2 linked regions of the Homo sapiens genome follow. The gene in region 1 interacts genetically with each later gene. Each region holds a gene or a part of one and is shown on either strand. Other genes may lie near its edges. The genes, in order: CKAP5 and CDK1.

The links.
Region 2: changes in CKAP5 (region 1) and CDK1 together harm fitness less than expected from each alone (positive genetic interaction), as found in Homo sapiens cells (one large-scale study listed by BioGRID).

What each region holds. Positions count from the first base shown.
Region 1 is NC_000011.10:46,794,078-46,798,109, reverse strand, and holds part of CKAP5 (cytoskeleton-associated protein 5), read left to right. Parts: coding exon 1-27; intron 28-140; coding exon 141-305; intron 306-1,169; coding exon 1,170-1,298; intron 1,299-2,333; coding exon 2,334-2,516; intron 2,517-4,032. UniProt on the Homo sapiens protein: Binds to the plus end of microtubules and regulates microtubule dynamics and microtubule organization. Acts as a processive microtubule polymerase. Promotes cytoplasmic microtubule nucleation and elongation. Plays a major role in organizing spindle poles.
Region 2 is NC_000010.11:60,784,978-60,788,477, forward strand, and holds part of CDK1 (cyclin-dependent kinase 1), read left to right. Parts: intron 1-686; coding exon 687-810; coding exon of another isoform or gene 811-822; exon of another isoform or gene 823-2,092; intron 2,093-3,082; coding exon 3,083-3,253; intron 3,254-3,500. UniProt on the Homo sapiens protein: Plays a key role in the control of the eukaryotic cell cycle by modulating the centrosome cycle as well as mitotic onset; promotes G2-M transition via association with multiple interphase cyclins.

The sequences.
Region 1 (4,032 bases):
GAGGCAATTGATGCAATCTTCCTTACTGTAAGTTGACAGCATGAGTTTGTAGTTTTATCTGAAGTAAAGTTTGTAAATATAATATTTTGATTGTTCTTTACAATTGAAAAAAGCTCATTAACCACATTTTCTTTCTAAAGACCACACTACAGAACATCAGTGAGGATGTTTTAGCAGTAATGGATAATAAAAATCCAACCATCAAGCAGCAGACATCTCTTTTTATTGCAAGAAGTTTCCGCCACTGCACTGCTTCTACCCTGCCAAAGAGCTTGCTAAAGCCCTTTTGTGCTGCACTACTTAAGGTACAGACTCTCTTTGAAGTTGGGGGAATATTTTATACCTAGGCAAGATTCTTTTCCTGCAAATTATGTACAGTGACTACTTGACTTTCAGACTATAGAGGTTATGATCTTTTGAGGAGCAGAGCCTTTGCAGCTTGGAAACTGAATCCAAATTCTCCTGTGTTCCTCTTCTTGAAAGAAAGCACAAGTTAGTGTTATGATTCCATTAACTGTTAAACATGTTGTTTCTTACTTGTCCCATATACTGGTGTTCAGCTGAATCTGGCCAAGCATAGGCATCAAATGTGGAGTATTTGAAGATCATTTGGGAGTGAGTTATTTTAGATAGAGGGTAAGAGGAAAAGGAAATACTTATTTGCTAAATGGATTACCAAGGGTTTCCTTAACCCGAAAAATTTTTGTTTTTTTTTTTTTGTTGTTGTTGTTTTTGTTTTGTTTGAGATGGAGTTTAGCTCTGTTGCCCAGGCTGGAGTGCAGTGACACAATCTTGGCTCACTGCAGCCTCTGCCTCCTAGGCTCAAGCAATTCTCCTGCCTCAGCCTCCTGAGTAGCTGGGATTATAGGCATGTGCCACCACGCCCGGCTAGTTTTTGTATTTTAGTAGAGATGGGGTTTCACCATGTTTGCCAGACTGGTCTCGAACTTGGCCTCCCAAAGTGCTGGGATTACAGGCATGAACCACTGTGCCTGGCCCAAAAAGAATTTTTGAAAGAGTAACTGTCAATTGGCACAAGGAAAGCTATACTTAGTTCCAGTAAATTGTAAAAAGCAAATTCTTTATCTAGCAACCATCAGTCTGAATTAAAATGAGTAATGCCTAAAATACCTTGCATTAATATCATTTTGCTTACTTCTGGACTATAGCACATCAATGATTCTGCTCCTGAAGTCAGAGATGCCGCATTTGAAGCATTGGGTACTGCTTTGAAGGTGGTTGGCGAGAAAGCAGTAAACCCATTCCTAGCTGATGTGGACAAACTCAAGCTTGATAAGGTAGGTTAGTAATGGATTGGACTGAAATTGGACAACATTCCTGTCTCTTTGCATCATGGCTTTGTCTCTTGACAGTTATAGAGTACTGGTAGTTTTGATGAGGAGTTCTTGATTTTTTTTAAATTGCCATTTATAGTAGGAAAGAAATGCATAATTGAAACAAGTTTTGGAGGATGCTCTCTGGTACTTTTTGTCTTCAATTTTGTCTGTTGTTTTATTAAGAAAAAAATGCTGATATCACCTCAGGAAATTTATTTCATCCTCCACTGATAGTTCAGACCGAGTTTGAAAACTTAGCTTTTGAGAATTTAAGTTTCATTCCAGGCTATGATGGTGATAATTGTAGAAATAGCTTTCAAATTATAACCGAAAAAAAGCTGAGTGACCAATCTGTAGAGAAGGTGAAAACAGTTCTGTGAGATAAATTTATTTCTAAGGTCCAGAAAATTACCTTCTTATATGTGAATGTCTTCCATAAACAATGTGGTCATTTTAAGTTTATTACAATTCTAATTTGTAAAGAAATAAAATGTAAGATTAATATCTTACGTATGTCTATCTACTGCCAAAAAAGTGTAGATAATTTATCTTTTTTGTTGAAAGGGAAATTTTTTCTCTGAAAATTTTTTTTTTTTTTTTTTTTTTTTGGCAATGAATCTCACTCTGTCACCCAGGCTGGAGTGCAGTGGCACAATCTCAGCTTACTGCAACCTCTGCCTTCTGAGTTCAAATGATTTTCGTGCCTCAGCCTCCCAAGTAGCTGGGATTACAGGCGCCTGCCACCACGCCCGGCTAAACTTTTTTATTTTTAGTAGAGATGGGGTTTCACCATGTTGGCCAGGCTGGTCTCAAACCTCTGACCTCAAGTGATCCACCCATCTCGGCCTTCCAAAGTGCTAGGATTATAGGTGTGAGCCACCTTGCCTGGCCATTTCTCTGAATTCTTATGTGTAGTTGTGGTTTAGAAATGTAATAACGTAGTGGTTGTGTTTCAAAGTTGGGCTTAATGATGTTCATCTCACTTTCATTCTCCAGATCAAAGAATGTTCAGAAAAGGTAGAACTGATACATGGTAAGAAAGCTGGACTAGCTGCTGATAAGAAGGAATTCAAACCTCTGCCTGGAAGGACTGCTGCTTCAGGGGCTGCAGGAGATAAGGACACAAAGGACATTTCTGCACCCAAACCAGGACCTCTAAAAAAGGCACCTGCTGCTAAGGTTAATAGATTATTTAAAAATAGAAGTTAGTAAGGAAGGGTCTGAGTCTCAGGTTCGTGGTTGTTCCTCTAAAATTATTTTGTTTGAGAAATGAATTCATTGGCCACATTAAAAATACAGCAGAAAATCTGTTAATGAAGATAGGATATTCCAGCAATAAATTCAGCTGTTTGGAGCTTTAATAGAGATAAAAATGGTGATGAAGGCACAGAAGTGTGTTTTGTCAATTTAACATAAAATTTACTATCTTAACTTTTTTTTTTTTTGAGATGGAGTCTCGCTCTGTTGCCCAGGCTGGAGTGCAGTGATGCAATCTTGGCTCACTGCAACCTCCGCCTCCCAGGTTCAAGTGATCCTCCTGCCTTAGCCCCCCAGTAGCTGGAATTACAGGCACGTGCCACCATGCCAGGCTAATTTTTGTATTTTTAGTAGAGATGGGAATTTGCCATGTTGGCCAGGTTGGTCTTGAACTCCTGACCTCAGGTGATCCACCCGCCTTGACCTCCCAAAGTGCTGAGATTACAGGCGTGAGCCACCGTGCCTGGTCTGTCTTAACTTTTTAATGTGCAGTTCATTAATATTAAGTATGTTTATAATGTTGTGCAGCATCACCACAATCCATTGCCGTAATGCTTTTCATGTTTTAACACTGAAACTCTATGAATCAATTAACTATCCTCCCATTCTCAGCTTCTTCCAGCCCCTTCTTTCTGTTTCTATGAATTTGACTACTTTGTTTTTATTTTCTATATTTTTTAGAGACAAGGTCTTGCTCTGTTGTCCAAGCTGGAGGGCAGTGGTGCGATTATAGCTCACTGCAACCTGGAACTCCCAGGCTCAAGTGATCCTCCTCACTCAGCCTCCCAAGTAGCTAGGATGACAGGGACTTGCCACCATACCCAGCTTATTTTTAAAAATTTTTTATAGAGGGCCTCGCTGTGTTGCCCAAGCTAGTCTTGAACTCCTGGCCTCAAGTGATCCTCCTGCCTTGGCCTCCCAAAGTGCTGAGGTTACAGGCATGAGCCACCAAGCCTGGCCTTGAGCATCTTTTCATGTGCAGGTGGCAATCTGTAGTTGTATAGTTCTTCTTGGAAAAAAATATCTACTCAAGTTCTTTGCCCATTTTTGAATTGGGTTGTTTTGAGGCAAGGTCTCACTCTGTTCCCCAGGCTGGAGTGCAATGGCACAATCACAGCATACCTCCCAGGCTCAAGCAATCCTCCCACCTCAGCCTTTTGAGTAGCTGGGACCAGAAGCACGTGCCACCACACACAGCTGATTTTTTATTTTTTAATATTTTTGTAGAGACGGGTTTCACTGTGTTGCCCAGGCAGGTCTCAAACTCCTAGGCTCAATGAATCCTCCTGCCTCCGCCTCCCAAATTCCTGGGATCACAAACCTGAGCCACTGCCCCCAGGCTTATGATGCTTTTGCCCTCTATTTTGTTCTAAAGATTTTATAGTTTTAGGTCTTACATTTATGTCTTTATTTTGACTTTATTTTTATATACGGTGTC
Region 2 (3,500 bases), on another chromosome or scaffold:
GAACCCTATTTTTGGTAGTTGAGAATGCCGCACATATGTAAAAGAGAACAGGCTGTTAAAGCAGGAACAGAGTTGGAGGAGCTGGGTGATGTAGATTAATATTTGGGCCTAGAATAGCAAGGTAAATTGGCCATGGGAGTAAAGCCGTTTTCATAGAGCTTTGTCAACTCTCTCCTACTTGGGGAGCTCTAGTTCCTGAAGACCCTTTAGTTAGAGTCTTAAGAAAAGTAGCTAGGTCAAATGAAAAAGATTTTTTTTCCTTAAAGTATTTGCATTGGGTGTTTTTGGAGACCTGTCTTCCTAACAGTCCAAGTTAAAATCTAATTGTACTTGGCTGGGGCTAGAGATTGGAAGTAGCTTTTAAGGTCAGATACCACTTTAAAATTTATTTGTATAATTCACTTCAGTGAAAAAATAAGCTCTCAGCAATTAGTAGCCAACCTAGATATGTTCTTTTGAATACAGGCTCCTTATAAATAAGCACCTCCTGTACAAGGCTTAATTTTAAATAGTTGCCCTGAGATTCCTTTCTTAAATTTGAGTTTTGAGTCTCTTCCATTAGGGAAGCTACTACGTCTTCCCCAGTTTTTATTATAGCAACTGAAATTATGGAAGGAGTTTTATTTTGTGAAACAGAGGTCAAAAATGTTTGCTGGATTCTTCTCTCATATATTTTTTTTCCCCAGTCTTCAGGATGTGCTTATGCAGGATTCCAGGTTATATCTCATCTTTGAGTTTCTTTCCATGGATCTGAAGAAATACTTGGATTCTATCCCTCCTGGTCAGTACATGGATTCTTCACTTGTTAAGGTAAAAGCTTAACTAATTTTATTAATATTTATGCACTGTGGATATAAAGGGACTATATATAGAAGTCCCTGCATTTTGTGGGAATATGCTTGGAAAAAGTGTTAGAATAAGAAAAAGTATTTCATTTTTCTCCCTCATGGTTAGTTTATACAGGTTAGAGATACCCATGTTATTACCAGATAGTGTTTCTAGTAAGTAAAAATTAGTGCCTGAGATAACATAGAACTGGTAGGTATTGTTGGAAGCTAGGGTAGTCTGGTCTTTCTTTGGCTGTCAGATACATGTAAAACAAAGTAATGAAAGCCTAGGGCAGAGTGGTGGTTGTAGGTGTTTTATTCCAGTTTTGAACATGTTTTGGTCAATTTATTGTAGACATTTATTATATTTCAGGTAAATTATAAAATTGTATAGTTTTAAGTACTGAAGTATATAAAAGTGTCTTATTCTTGCACCAGTTCTACCAAACCACTCTGCAGAGGTAGCGCTGTTAGTTTTATTTGTAATCTTACACTTGTATGTATGTTCACTTTGTATGTATATAAAGATTTTTTTTTTTACACAAGGTGGACTTATTTGCATATGTATATATACATATTTTCCCTTTTTTGTGTAAAACATTATCAAGACGTAGATCTACCTATGTCTATTTACATTTTTGATATAATTAAACCACTTCCATATTGATGAACATTTAAATTATTTTCCAACTTGGTTATTGTTGCTCTTATTAACAGTACTGCACTGAATGTCCTTATAGATATTTATCTTCGTATGCAACTTTATAGGATAAATTTTTAGAATGGGAATGATGGATTGAAGATGTTTATTTACATTTTGATAGATATTGCCGGTTGCCCCCTAAAAAACTTGTAGCAATTTACTCTTAAATACTCATGGTGTGTAATACTTATTGTTTTAGTACATCATTGCCAAAACTTGGTTTTATCAATCTGTTAACTATGTGAAAAAGGCATATTAAGATTGTTTTAATTTTATATTTCATGACAATTTAACACTTCATATTTAGCTATTATAAACCGCCTATATTTTCGTTAGGATACGTTCTTTAACAATCTTGCATGACTTTTGGACTTTCTGCTTTTATGTCTTGCTTAAGTCTTCCTCACTCAAAGATCGAATGTATTAGAATAATACATGTCAGTATTTTTCTGGTAGTTTTAGTAAGTCCTGTCTTCCACACATACTTTTTTTGTCTTAAATTCTGTATTAAGATTTATTTTGACTTAAAAACTGGGATACAGATTCTGCTTTATCTTTTTCCAAATGGCTAGCCAGTTGTTCTAACTGGTTTTATGTACAGGCAACAATGGTTTTACTTACAATTTTTCAGTTTTACAATGAAGCAGAAATGATGCACATTCACTAGAAACCATACTTCATTTACCCATACAACCATTCTGTTTTTTCACTTTCAGTACAGTATTCAATAAATAATGAGGTATTCAACACTTCCAACTATATGCTAATGTAAGTGTTTTGAGCACAATTAAGGTGGGCTACGCTTAGCTACGTTTGGTAGGTTAGGTGTGTTCAATGCATTTCGACAAGGTATTTTCAGCTTAGAATGAGTTTAACCAGATGGATCATCCGTTTTGTTTTGTTTTTTGAACACCACTTGTCCCTCTAAGATGGAGCATCTGTATTACTTTCCAATTTCAAACTGTAAGTCATTTTTCTGTGTACTTTGTTTTTGTAATATCCATGCTACTTCAGATGTCAATGACATTGTCTTTGGCAACAAATGTCTTGTAAAGCACTTTTCTCTGAACTAAGCAGCATTTTATGATAATTTTATCCATTGAAATATATAATCATAATATCTTTGCCATCACTTTTAGAATCTAATTTTTTCAAGAAGGAAATGAATATGTAAAAATGAAAGATAGAAAAGGCCAACTGTATTGAAGATACAAAATAGAGTTGGTAGCGGTATATAGAAGAAAAATCAAGAGGCTTCTGTGTAGAAAACCAATTTGTAATTTAAGGATCGGGGACCAAAAATGTTTAAAGACTAAATGTGTTCACATTACTATAGATATGTCTATAAGGTGAAGATTCTTTTCTTAGGTATACAAATGTGATGTTGTATATAAATGGGCTTCCCACCCACAAATGCTTATTAGCCTAAAATGGCCTGAAAGCTCTAGTAATTAAATTATTTCTCTGCGTCCTAATTTTTTGTCTTTGAAACAGATTATTTAGAAAATCATGTACTTCGCTTAAGTTTCTAACTTTTACTTGCTTTTTCCAGAGTTATTTATACCAAATCCTACAGGGGATTGTGTTTTGTCACTCTAGAAGAGTTCTTCACAGAGACTTAAAACCTCAAAATCTCTTGATTGATGACAAAGGAACAATTAAACTGGCTGATTTTGGCCTTGCCAGAGCTTTTGGAATACCTATCAGAGTATATACACATGAGGCAAGTGGAATAGTGGTTTTTGATGGCTTTTGAATGTGTGTGATTGCTAGATTATTTTCTGTATTTGTGAAAGTCAAGAAATAACTCAATAAAAGATATCTACTCTGTGGCAGTATCAATTTATTGCCTCTCAGCTCCAAATTCATTGCATGCTATGTGAAAATGGAACTGAAGCCTTTAAGTATTTTTTCTTTACCAGCTGCTATGTTGTTAAGGTAGAGGGTACTAGAGGGACATGGCAGGAGGA